2 linked regions of the Homo sapiens genome follow. The protein of the gene in region 1 interacts with the protein of each later gene in a pairwise test. Each region holds a gene or a part of one and is shown on either strand. Other genes may lie near its edges.

What was found. The genes of interacting proteins can lie anywhere in the genome.
Region 2: the proteins of SH3GLB1 (region 1) and TMEM115 interact in binary tests that used the Homo sapiens proteins (3 or more experiments, as listed by UniProt).

What each region holds. Positions count from the first base shown.
Region 1 is NC_000001.11:86,742,575-86,748,707, reverse strand, and holds the end of SH3GLB1 (endophilin-B1), read right to left. Parts: intron 5,581-6,133; coding exon 5,473-5,580; 3' UTR 524-5,472; downstream 1-523. UniProt on the Homo sapiens protein: May be required for normal outer mitochondrial membrane dynamics. Required for coatomer-mediated retrograde transport in certain cells. May recruit other proteins to membranes with high curvature. May promote membrane fusion.
Region 2 is NC_000003.12:50,356,522-50,363,976, forward strand, and holds the start of TMEM115 (transmembrane protein 115), read right to left. Parts: upstream 3,001-7,455; 5' UTR 2,543-3,000; coding exon 1,692-2,542; exon of another isoform or gene 1,597-1,691; intron 1-1,596. UniProt on the Homo sapiens protein: May play a role in retrograde transport of proteins from the Golgi to the endoplasmic reticulum. May indirectly play a role in protein glycosylation in the Golgi.

The DNA.
Region 1 (6,133 bases):
CTTTCCCCACTACGGCTACATTCCCTAAATCCATCAACAGTACACCTGCATCAAAGATACCTCAAGATTCAAGTCTACTTAAGATTGTTCTTCTACTGTCTTTGCAAATGTCAGAAAGGTAATAATGCTTCCAGGAGACTGAATAAAAGCAAGAGGCAACTAGTACTACAAACATTTCCAAAGTAATACAAAATATATGATAAAGAGGGAAGAACAGTAAATGAATGTCATAATTTAAGAAACATTTAAGACTGGACTTTAATTTTGCAGGATCTTTTTATCTCCCTCTTACCCTTTATTTTTAAACCAAAGACTCCAAGAACATTCTAGTTGGAAGCCCTCCAAAAGAAACAGTATTCTCTCATATACTGCTGATAAAAGTATAAATTGCTTAGAGTTTTCTAGGGGGCAACATGGCAGTAACAAAAGCTTTTAAAAACTGGCATACCCTCTTCACTAGCAATTCCACTTCAAAGCATTTATCGTGAGAAAATATGAACACATACGAGATTTAGCAACACAATGTTCTTTAAAGCACTTTATTAATGAAAGTTGGAAACCTAAAAATTGAACAGTAGTTTAATAAAATGTGGCACATATGATGGAATATCATGCAGCCATTAAGAGATGTAGAAATATACTTGACACAGCAAGACAGTCATGGTATTGTTGAGTGAAAAAAAGTTACAAAACAGTATGTACACTTTGATCCCATTAAAAATATCTATAAATGCACAGAAAAGTCTGGAAGGCCATATACTTAAATAACAGTGGTTCTCCCTGGATGATGGAATTATCAGTGATTTTTCTTTCTCACTGAATCTTTTTTCTTTTTGCCAACAGGGCTATGACTTGTATTATAAAAAAGCATTAACAATTCTTTAAAAAGTGTCCTTTGAAGTAAGAATGAGAGCAGAACTTAGCAATCTAAGAGGCACAGGGATGTACACATGGTTTCTGATACTGTTTTAACGGTTTGTCAAGGTGTTTTGATGTTAGTCACCAATTAAAAGGCACTGTGTTGAGTGAAAACGTGGATGGTGGTAGTGCTTACTTTAGACTAAGCAATCCATTCCTAGAAACCTTCCACAGCAAACAAGTACTGGCATTCTAAGCAATACTTCCCACTATGATATCCTTATACCTTCCTACCCACTTGTAATACAGCCCAGAAGTTTCCCCTACATGGACAGGGCACTGTTGTTGGTTAAGGGTTACAGAAGGCAGAGAGGATTTTTCAAGTGATGTCAGAGAATAGGCCTGAAGGTGAAATGAATGTTCTCTTAGTTCTATTGCAGTGGTTCTCAAGCTTAGAGTGCAACAGTATTACTCAAACAGCTTTTACAACAGATTGCTGGGCTCCACTCTCAGAGTTTGATTCAGTAGGTCTCTGAAAAGGCTTATAAATTTGCATTTTTCTTTCATTCAACAAAAATTTATTGAGTTCATACTATGTCCTAGATCTTGTGCTAAGAGTTGGGAATGTAACTGCCATCAAAAGAATTATAGTTTTTATCTCAGGGAGCCTACATTCTAGAGTGACAGATATACACTAAACAAATAAATTATAAAAATAACTATAATTACAATGACTACTGCTAGAACACAATTAAGATTAGAAGACTCAGTTTTTGTCTTAAAATATTTAAAAAGCTGTCACATGGAAGACTGATTCCATGAGCCCTTGAAAACAAAAAATAAGTAAAAATGAAGGTAGAAAGTTCTTGAAAATAGTAATCAGCATTTTAAACAAGTCTCCAGGAGATGCCAATATTGCCGGTCTGGGGTCTCACACTTTGCCAATCACTGCTCTACTGAGTAGACATTTTTTCTTTCCTTGAGACAAGAGTCTTATTCTATCACCCAGGTTGGAGTGCAGTGGTGCAATCTTGGCTCACTGTAGCCTCTGCCTCTGGGGTTCAAGTGATTCTCCTGCCTCAGCCTCCCGAGTAGCTGGAATTACAGGTGCACGCCACCATGCCCGGCTAATTTTTATATTTTCAGTAGAGACAGGGTTTCCCCATGTTGGCCAGGCTGGTCTCGAACTCCTGACCTCAGATGATCCACCCGCCTCAGCCTCCAAAGTGCTGGGATTACAGGCATGAGCCACGGCACCCAGCCCTGAGTAGACTTTCTAATGAGCGTAATATGGGAGAAAGGGCAGGGGTGGTTGTGGAACTCTCTCTCCAGCGTTTGAGACTCACATGAGGTAAAAGCCACTTCATCTTATCTGGAGGTCTTGAGGCAAAGTTGGCTATAGGCTAAACTATGAAGCTATCTCTCCATTACAGCACCTCACTGAAGCTTAAAGTGCTAAATAGTAGGGCAATATTTCAGAATTTCAGGTGTTTGGGAGATAGGGAAGGAATTTTTCTGGAATTCTGTCAGCATGGAGGTGAGTGGGGCCTCTATGGGTAAACAAGTCTGTGGGTTTTTGCCTTGCCCTCCATTGTCTTCTCCACTCCACAGTTTATCCCAGAAATGTTTCCCCAACACTAGCTTCCCAGTCTCACTTTGTTCTTTGTTCAGGGGGAGGATAACAGGAGACTATGAAGATGACTCTACCCCACTGGTGATCCTGGCCTCAGGATTTATTTCCCATGTGACGCAGAGTGAGGAGGCACATTCCCATTTTTGAGACCTCATTTCTTGCAACATCAATTTTTCTGATTAGCACCATAAAAAGTTTTAACACCATGACCGTTTAGGTTAGATTACTTTGAGGAAAAAGGTAGACACAATCCAATCACTTTTTTTTTCATTTATAGAAGAGCCTACAATTATTTTAGTTTTTCATTCATATGTGCATCCTTCACATGTCACTATACTTTCAGATTAAGCTCAGTGGCACAGAGCTTATTTAAACAATTCTGAACTGCACCATGAATTAATAGGCTTCCCAAGCTTTTTCTTCCACGCCCAAGAAACTTCAGGCCTTTACCTGAGTAAAAACTAAACTTGACTTTAAAATAAGCCAAAACCAAAATAAAACCCAAACAACCAAACCCCATTAAAATAAAAAGCAATAAACCTAAGAACAAGCATATATATTGTGGTGGTTCTGTGGTAGACAAACGTACCAGAAGCCTTTGAAGCTTAACATTATTGAAGGTTTCTGTACATTACTGGGTAACTAAAATCAACTTTCACTTGATGGAAAGCTGAAAGTTCTGAAAAATGATTTATACTGACTGTGGGAAGGTTAAACCTGGGGTCTGATTTAAAGAGGGTGGAGGATAGGATTGATAGAGAGAAAACAGAGCCCAGATGTAAAAGAGGTATCTCTGGTGCACAGTGATATGCAAGGCCTATAGACTTGGTAGGTCAGGATGCTACAGGGGCTAACAAGGGGAAACTGATATTTACAGGATGTGTTTACTATGTGCCAAGCCTTTCCCTGAAAGGCACCTGAAATACAAGATAACATTTGCTAATCCTCACAACCACCCTATGGTGTCATAATTATTGTCCTCATTTTACTGGTAAGGAAAAGGCAGTTATACATCTCATTTGAAGCTTAAAGAGCACAATATGTGAGGAAGACTGGATTTGAACCCAGGACCATTTCACTCCATTACCGATATTCTTTCCCCTGTATTACTACATTTCCCATAAACCTAATTCATAGTTGCTGTTTAAGTCGATCTGAAGTTTTGGTATGATCTTTCAAAGCCTAAATCTGGACTTATAAAACACAATAGATGGTACTCTAGGCTGTAGAACTTCCTTTCTGAGGGGAGAGAAAATTTCATTTACTTGGTTTTACAGAAAACTGACCAGCTTGAGCAGCTTTTCAGGGTTTCTTTAAGAATATGGCAATTGAGAGTGAGTCAAAACATCTTGTACAACTATAAAACTGCAGAAGAATTTGTCTCATGGCACAGAAATAAAAGGGTAACTACTACTTTTAAAGTTTAGACTGTGAGTTAAATTGTCAACATGTTTACCAAGTTCTTATTAGGAGCTCTTAACACAAAATTTTAAAACGGTGTTTAAGTATTCATTTTTTTAAAAGTACCAAAAAGTATCATTTTAATAGCTTAACATTCCCTCAATAAATGAACTATACTTTTGTACTTCATGCTTAAGTTAGAGTAAATTGCTTTAGTTGTCAGAATGTGCTATGCTATCTTGGTTACACATCTTTTTATCTGGAACAGTTCTTCCCCAGACCCTCTCTCACTCCCAAAACTGGAGTTACATGACTCCCAAATACAGTACCTTGTATTTTCCCCATCACACCACGAATCCTACTATAGGATAATTGCTTAATTTTCTGTATCCTTTAATGGTCTTTAAGCTCTGCAGGGGCAAGAACTGTGTGCATATTGTTCAGGACAGTATCCCCAGTTGACCAGCACAGTATCTGGCCCTCAACAAATGTTTGTTGAATGAATGAATTAGAACAGAAGTCTTAACATGGAAACAATGATTTATAGCAATGGCCCCAACAGCAATTTTCTAGCTTCCAATGTGTCACTAATAATTTCATTAGTATGTGTTTCATAAGCAGAGATCCTCATCAAGATAGCCTGTGTTCATTAATAAATTTTCAATGTTTTAATAGTAAGCTCAGAGTGACCCAATTTATTTTGTTCGTATACAATTTATAATGTAGTTGCATTATTCCGTATTTGTATACAAATCTGCTGTTCAATAAGAACACATTCTCTTTACTGTACCACAGTACAGTAAATGGATCCAATCCCAATTATGCATTAAATTGTGCCAACTGAATAATCTTAAAAACTTTATGTTTAATGAAGTAAATTTGTCCTAGATTTTCTAGAACCTTAACTACAAATTTATCAGAGAAATACGGTATTGCTTTTCAAGAACTAGTTGTTCTTAAATTTAAAAGAAACCATTCAGTAGTGTTTAAAAAACCAAACAACTCTGAAAATAACCCATCAAAACATAATATTAAAATCATTTGATTTCTGTTGGAAAACCAGGTAAACATAGTTTAAATGCGTTTTTGTCTATGAAAGCATTCAGAAAATTCTACTTTTCACAAAAGAGGTTTATATCCTACAGCTCTTTTTAAGACCGAAAGTTTAAAATAAATTTTAATTTTATTCTTTGGCTATTATTTATACCTAATAAATGAGTCGCTGATATCAATTCACAATAGATTTATTTTACATAAAAGAAAAAGCTTGCTGTTAATGAAAAATCCAGTAGAAAACAGTTCTGCTTTAAGTTGAGGCTCAAAAGTAGAAGCTGCTTATTAGTGAAACCTCAATAAAAAGAGAATTTTGTAAGAAAACATTCTTGGCATGAAAGCTCTAACATAAATTCTGTAATGAAATATTTACCATGCAACTTTATTGGCAGAAAGGCCAGTTTCTGATGGCTGGTATTTTCAGTCTCTTAACACATTAACATGGAAGATACTTAACCTGCTTTATTTAGAGTTAATTGTATATAAATACAAAGTCATGATGGGCAACCTTTCCATAGTCCACCTACTTAATTGAGCAGTTCTAAGTAGGTAATTGGCACCTTGCCCTTCTGGTTTCCCCTTTCCCCCATTAGCCAGTCTGAATCCATTCCAACAACACTGAACACAGTGATCACCTGCAAAATAAAATACTTCCAGTTATTAACTACATTAAAAAAATAAACAAGTAGAAAACCAATCAGATTTGTATTTAATTTGTTTAAATTATTCACCAAAAGGACTTTAAACGTTATTATCAATTGTGCTGAAAAACAAAGGATTTATTTATTATTATTAGTTTTTTGAGGCAGGGTCTCACTCTGTTGCCCAGGCTGTAGTGCAGCAGCATGATCACGGCTCACTGCAGCCTTGACCTTTCGTGTTCAAACGATCCTCCCACCTTAGCCTCCTGAGTAGCTGGGACTACAGGCGCACACCACCATGCCCAGCTAATTTTTCATATTTTTTGTAGAGATGAGGTGTCGCTATGTTGCCCAGGCTGGTCTTGAACTCCTGGCCTCAAGTGATCCCACTGCCTTGGCCTCCCAAAAGTGCTGAGATTACAGGTGTAAGCCACCATGTCTGGCCTAGATAAAGGATCTTATTGGAGGGAGTTTTATACATCTTCAAGTTATTTGGCAGTTAAAAGTTTTAAATATTTCTATGATATTCTATTAAAGAATATTAATT
Region 2 (7,455 bases), on another chromosome or scaffold:
AGGTGTAGAAAGCCCTAGCACGCTTCCCCCCTGCCCGTCAGTCTCACACATGACAAGTTGGTATAGACAGGACAGTCTTTCCCTGCTGCTACCCAGGCTGCCATCCTGATGATGCCCTTGCCAGTTCCATCTAAAGCCTGCCAAGGCAGAGAGCTAGTGTTACGCTAGTCACTTCCTCACAAGGACCAGAGAGACAGATAGGAAACCCTGCCTCCCTCTCCTGGTAGCCCTTTGGAGTTGGGCGTGGCCATGCAGTCAGATGTCAAACTGGCTGGAGGAATAACCGCCACCCCCATGTAAGCTAACAACCATAAGGCTATGCCAAGAACCCGCCTCTTGACCCTCCCTTCCTCCCCACCAACCTGCTTCCCCCCTGTCCATTTTCTTGGGCCTAGGCAGAGGTTTTTGAATGTCCAGCCAACCCTAACATTCCAACACCTCTCAGTGGAGGAGGGGTCCCCACTGGCCTGGCCCCACCTGAATGGCTCTGAGGGACAGCTCAATTCCTACCAGGCCCAGCTCACCTGGCCCCATCTTTAATACCAGCTAAGGTTAAGAGAGACTTCTGTCCTTAGGGCTTATCACCTATAAAGACCCAAGCTCTAGGGCCCAGAATTATGCCCTGCAGCATGCTGTATATACTTTTCAACACCTACCATACCTTGGGCCATAGTGATCTGTGGCCCTTCCCCAGCTGGAACTCCTTCAAGAAAGGAGTGTGTCCCACACTCAATTCCATAGCCCAGTGGAGAGTAAATACAGGGATAACTGCAGCTAAATTCATAGAGCTTCCTGCCACAACCCCATTCACAGGTGAGCAAAAGCAGGAGCCTTGGCAATGCAAAAGACAAAGCCCGTCCCAGATTTTACTACTCGAGTAATTGCCTCAAAACAGTGAGGAATAATGTTGGAAATGGAGCTGTGGATCTTATGAAGGCTGGGACCACTCTGCTGGCTCCACAGATCTGGGAGAGAGAGTAAGCTGAATTTAAAAAGATCCCTCCTGCCCTGGCCAAAGTGCATTCAGTGAATAATTCAGCTGGGACTCCTGATGCTGTGGATAGCTTGGTTTACAGATAATGAAAGGGTCATCGCCACTCCCTGGTGTCAGCAGGCTCCCTCAGTGGGTCATGTAGCCTGTCCCTGGTTTTGGTGACACATGCTTGCTGGAGACAGAGGTAAATGTGGTAATACCCCAAGCTTCCCTCTCAATAAGTAAGTGGCAGAGAAGCACAGCATCTGAGTTAAAGCCCAGGAAGAGGACACAGCATTTGGAAATTGGAGTGGCCCAGATCACCTTTTGAGGACCCCAGGCCTCCTTCCCTGTCCCTTCCTCACAGGGGAAAGTACCAGCAGGTTGCTTCTGGCTCCCACAGGCCCAATGTCTAGGATTCTGAGATTCTGAGGCAAGGCCAGGGTTCTGTGTCCCTCCACTGGGACTTCACAGCACCAAAGGAAACTGCATTTCTTGAGACTTATTAAGTGGCCCGAGTGGTGAGAAAAGTGCCTCGTGGACCCCAGACACCTAACTGCTGAGTTCCTTAAGGCCAAAGACTGATTTTGTCTTTCCGGATGTGCCCCAATACCTGACTGTAGGTCTCCACCTATGTACAGCGAACACCTCAACAGATGGCATGTGACTCGACCAGTATGCTCCTAGCTTGACAAGATTTTGGAAAATTTCACAGTACCTTCTCCGCTCGGCGTCTTGAGGGTCTGTGCCTGGCAGGCTGATGGTGATGGAGGATGGGGCACCCACATCGTAGCGCTTCACCGTCTTCTGGCATATCTTTACCTTCACCAGGAGGCTGTGCACCAAGTTCGCCAGCAAACCCACCACAGGCTGCAGGATCTCAGGGAAGAAAGTGGCGAAAGCAAAGTGGTCAGCCATGTCCCCTCGGCCCCGGCTATGGCGCTGGTAGAAGCGAAGATATACCCAACTGGAGAGCAGCCCGAAGCCATAGGAAGCCAGCGCCGGGCTCTGGAGCAGCGTGGCGAGCCGCAGCAGGAGCAGCAGCGCCAGCAGCAGCATGGGCATCACACTGACGCGCACCTGGGGCACTCGCAGGACCACACAGTCCCCCATGGTTTGCTTGAGTGCCACCAGGACGCCACCTAGGAAGCCCAAGGCGCCGTGGATACGGACAGTGAACAGGTAGACCAGGTTGAAGGAAGCCATGTAGGTGAGGAGGTAGGCGAAGGCCCCCAGCAGCCCTACAGACACATTCACCACTGAGAAGAAGATGAGCAGCTCCAAGGCCCCCCAGAGGGGCTCCAGCAAACGCCCGGCCACCACCACCGTTGTCAGGCTGATGGCCACGTCCCACACATGCTGCTCCATCAGCCCATGGGTGGCCAGGGTCCAGATCCAGAAGTTGGGAGGAAAGAGGTAGCCCGGGGTGACCGCCAGGCAGCCTGTGTCCACGGCGAAGGAGAGCAGGTAGAGGAATAGTACCGCCGCACACAGAGCCTTCACCACCACGCTGGCGCTGGCCAGAATGGCCCCCAAGTGCTGGCGGGCGCCTGGCAGGGCACGTTGCATCTTCCTGGCGGCTGTCGGCCTGAGAAAAGGGTCTGGTAGGCCAGGGGCCTCCCCGGGGCCTCGTCCTAGTCCGGCCCCGATGGGAGGCCCAGGCCCGGCCTAGTCACTGGCCTATGGCCCTGGTAAAGGATCCGCTTCCGATCGGGTGGGGCTCTGGTCCCGAGGGGCCGAGTCGGGCCTTGTTGCCGGGCCGCAGCGTAGGCCCCTCGCCCGGGACCTGAGGGAAGGCCCTGGACGGCTGCGGCACGCCCGCCTACCCACCCTGTAGGCCCCGTGCCAGGCTAGCCTGGTTGGCGTTGACCTCAGGGCTGGGCCTCCTCCATCCACTGCGAGGCCCTTCGGTTCGCAAGGGGACTGGTGCCTCGTTCTGTACCCGAGTCAAGCCTGGTCAGCTCCCGCTCGGCCTGGCTCCTGGCTTCGACCGTACCTCTTCTCTCGGGGGGCCGACAAACAGGGGTGCTGCGCCTGCGCGTCCCCGGCGGCAGCGGGCTGTCCTCTAAGCGCCTGTCTTCCGGCTCCTCTGCATGCTGGGATACGGAGTCCTTGGTTGCAGCCGGGGAAGAGTTGAACAGGGTTCTGGCTAGAACTACAAGTCCCAGGAGGCCATGAGCACGGACCGGTCCCGTTGTGGTGAGCGCGGGGTGTGCTGGGAGTTGTAGTTCTCAGGGACCGTTTCCGTCGGTTCTCAGGAGGTGGGAAGGGATGAATTAGCATCTCTAACCCCTGAAAGCGGCGGTGAGGGTTCGGGAAGCAACACAGCTCTAGCCCCCACACTTGCTGAATTCCCTAGGAAGAGTAGCTCTATTTGTGCGTGTACCTCTGAGCGAGTGTGTCCTTGTTGGCTGGCGTGTGGGTAGGTGTCACTGTGTGAGAAACAGAACCTCCGTGGTCTGGTGAATGGGACCTGACCCAGGCTGGAACCCTTGCTCTGCCTCGGAGGCTGTGTGGCATTGGTTGGTTAAGTTCCTGAACCTTTTTGAAACTCAGTTTCATGGGCCATAAAATGTAGCTGATGACATGATCTTCCTGTCCTAATAATCAAAGGGGAAAGGGGTGTAAAATGCCAGTCCACCCTGGGTGCTCAGCGAGTGCTGCACATGTTGCCTTTTTTTGTTTGTTTTCTCCCACTTGGAAAAGTTTTTTGTTTGTTATTTCACGTTGCCCTTTTTCCAAGTGAGGTGGACCTGGAGCACGAACCTAGGGCTCCCTCCCGCATAGGGACGAGGCTGGGCAGCCCTCAGTGACCCTCCTCCCCACCAGGGACTTCTGATAACTGCGGAGGATGAGAGGTCTCTCTACAAGCCAGGTCTCTCCACAAGCCTGGGCTAGGCCTGTTCTGGTCCCACTTCACGCCACAGTGACTTCTGACAGGTTGTGTTCTGTGTCTTTTTTTTTTTTTTGTATATGGAGTTACTTTTAAAAAACTGTACATATAGGCTGGGCACGGTGGCTCACGCCTGTAATCCCAGCACTTTGGGAGGCTGAGGCGGGCAGATCACCTGAGGTCGGGAGTTTGAGACCAGCCTGACCAACATGGATAAACCTCATCTCTACTAAAAATACAAAATTAGCCAGGTGTGGTGGCACATGCCTGTAATCCCATCTACTCGGGATGCTGAGGCAGGAGAATCGCTTGAACCCGGGAGGCGGAGGTTGCGGTGAGCCAAGATCATGCCATTGCACTACAGCCTGGGCAACAAGAGCGAAACTTTGTCTCAAAACAAAACAAAAAGCTGTCCATATAATTAAAATAATTCTATGACAAAGTGCTTTTATAAAACACAGGATCCCTTCCTTTCAGCCACTGATTTCAGTGTGTGCTGATGTGTGCATGGCCTACAGGTTAAAAAGGGTGCTGATGCTTTTTTTCTGGGGTCTGGGTTCCCACTGGTTGCCACATCTGGGTAAGGTTGCCAGTTTTAGCAAATCAAAATAAGGATGCTCAGTCAAATTTGAATTCCAGATAAACAATGAGTAATCTTCGAGTATAATCATGTCCCCCTGCCCCCTTTTTTTTTTTTTTTTTTTTTTGAGACAGGGTCTAGCTTTGTCCAAGGCTGGAGTGCAGTGGCACAATCATAGCTCACTGCCACCTCTAACTCCTGGGCTGAAGGGATCCTCCAGCCTCAGCCTCCTGATTAGCTGCGACTACAGGCACACACTACTGTGCCCAGCTAATTTTTAAAATTTTTTTATTTTGTAGAGACATGGGCAGGGGCGGGGTGGCCATCCTACCCAGGCTGATCTCGAACTCGTGAGCTCAAGCGATCCTCCTGCATCAGCCTCCCAAAGTGTTGGGATTACAGGCGTTAGCCACTGTGCCCAGCCCCCAGTTTTTCAGTATAGGTATGTCCCACACAATAGTTGAAACACTTCCATACTAAAAACTCGTTCATGATCTGAAATTCAAAATAGGGTGTTCTGTATTTTATCTTACAACCCTATCCAAGATTGCACGGTCTCTTGCAGGCCATGGGAGCTGTCTTGGGGGTTGTGGATTAGGCATTGCTCTGCAGCCGAACCCTGCAGAGGAGACAGAAAAAGTCTCCATCTTGGCTGAGGCCTCGAAGCCCCTTCATCTATTTAGCATCCAAGCTCCCCAACCCTTGGTGGCCACCTCTTCTCTAAAATCTTTGCTGGTTTTTAGCCTTCTCACCTGGGGGGAAAGGCTTTCTCCTCTTAGTTTGCTCATCTGTGGTATGGGGATACACTAGTACCCACCCCAGAGACTGTGGCGAGGACTCAGCCAGGTCAGTGCGCAGAGAGCAGAGTGTTGGGAGGAGAGAGAGGACTGTGGTGGGAAGGCAGGGACACCTGTGCTCTGGTGGTTACAGGTTATAATTCTCTCCACATGAGAAGATCGCAAAGGTCACACCTTCTAGGGTGAAAATGAACTAGGGCCTAAGCTTGAGAGGATTCACAAAAATGAAGTTTGGCCTATGGCTCCAGTTTAAGCAGCTGCGGCCTCAAGCTCCTGTGGGCCAGGAGGGAGCCGTTGCTGCACTTGTGGTCAGGGCTTCCTGGGCCGTAGGGACACTGGCCAGGTGCTCACTCATAGCTCCCGGCAGAGGCCCTGTCAGGCCCTGGTGGTCTGACCAGACTGCCAGATCCACCTCCCCACTAAACCAGCATCTCTGATCTGTCTTCTTCCCTCCAGGGTCCTGGCTTTCAGGCTCTGGGAGGGTGTTTGTTTTGCTTGTATTTTTTTTTTTTCTGAGACAAGAGTCTCGCTCGGTCATCCAGGCTGGGGTGCGGTGGCGCAATCTTGGCTCACTGCAACCTCCGTCTCCTGGGGTCAAGCAATTATCCTGCCTCAGCCTCCTAAGTAGCTGGGATTACAGGCGCATGCCACCATGCCTGGCTAATTTTTTTGTATTTTTAGTAGAGACGGGGTTTCACCATGTTGGCCAGGCTGGTCTCAAACTCCTGACCTCAAGTGATCTGCCCGCCTCGGCCTCCCAAAATGCTAGATTACAGGCATGAGCCACCGCACCCAGCCTGTCTTGCTTGTTTTTAAAAGACAGCTTTTTGAGATGTTATGAGACAATGTATGTCAAGGGCCTGGCACCTATTATAACTGGTGGAAGCAAGTGCCATGCCCTGTGGTTGACAGGGACCTGGGCTACCATGGTCTTCACCCCCTGCAGAGCACTAAGTGGGACTCTGAGGTCTTGGCCAACTGTCTTCATAGCTACCCAGTCCTCACCCCCAAGCTGATACAGTGGATGGGAACCATTTGAAGTGAAAATATGAACATTATTTAATAACTGATCTTCTGTAATAAACCATTTGAAAATATTTTACAAGGAATCACACACACGATATTTTACAAAGTTTCTTGACTTTTTTGTCGCTGTTGTTTTTCCAACTTGTCTGTACAAAATAGAACAACAAAAAAAGGGCAGAGAAAAGGAAATGGCCCCCCAGTCCCCCAGCCCAAGGTGAGGGGCAGCCAGGTCGGGTGGGTAATGAGAAGGATTAGACCCAGCTGGGGGTTAGACAGCTACCTGATGGGGATTGTTTTGTCTGTTTTTCTGTTTTTTAAACTTAAAATATATATTTTTCTGTATATGTTTATATTCTCCATTGAGCACCTGACTACACTACAGTTACACGCACGCCCCCGAAGGACACAGCTGGCATCCAGGCCGGGTGCACATGGACACCCACCCTGGCACCAGCAGTGGGCATGGACCACACACACACACTGAGAAAGCGACAAGCAACATGACATTAATTAACGAAGCCATTAATTAATGCATCACCCTCCCCCTCCTCCCAGTCCATCTGAGCCCCATCACTATATCCCCTTGCCCTCAGTTCCCCACTGGCCCCCAGGCTGGGATGCCTTTGGGGGAAATGACCAGAATGAATGGTGTGAAGAGCTGTGCCCAGTCCCCACCTGTGTGTGTGTGTGTGTGTGTGTGTTCAGCAAGGGAGGGACAGTTTGGCCTCCTGCAAGCAGGGAGTGTGTGTGTAGGGGTGGGAAGGAGATAGGGAGTGGGCACAGGCCTGAGTGTGTAAGGGCCAGATTGGCGGAAGGATGGCCCAGCCAGGAGAGACAAAGTCACCCCTGCTAAGGCAAAGGGTGATGTCTGGTGGGGGTTCCTCTGCCGAAAGGTGCAGGCAGTGGCATGTGGTCCCACTGGGGGCCTGACACTAGTGAGAAATGGTTACAATGAGCACCTGGAGAGGTGAGGGGGCACTTGGAGGACACTGGTGGCTAGGGGTGGGACAGAGGGTTCTTCACCCCCTGCCCCAGCATTTGGCACTGTTTGACATTCAGCTTTAGAAATGGGAGGACCAGCCAGGCTGCAGCTCAGATTAGAGGCAGGTGGTGAGCAGGAGATGGAGTGTGCAGGTGCCAACCCTCCCACCAACCCCTCGCCCTGTGTAAGGCTTTGTAAGCCCCT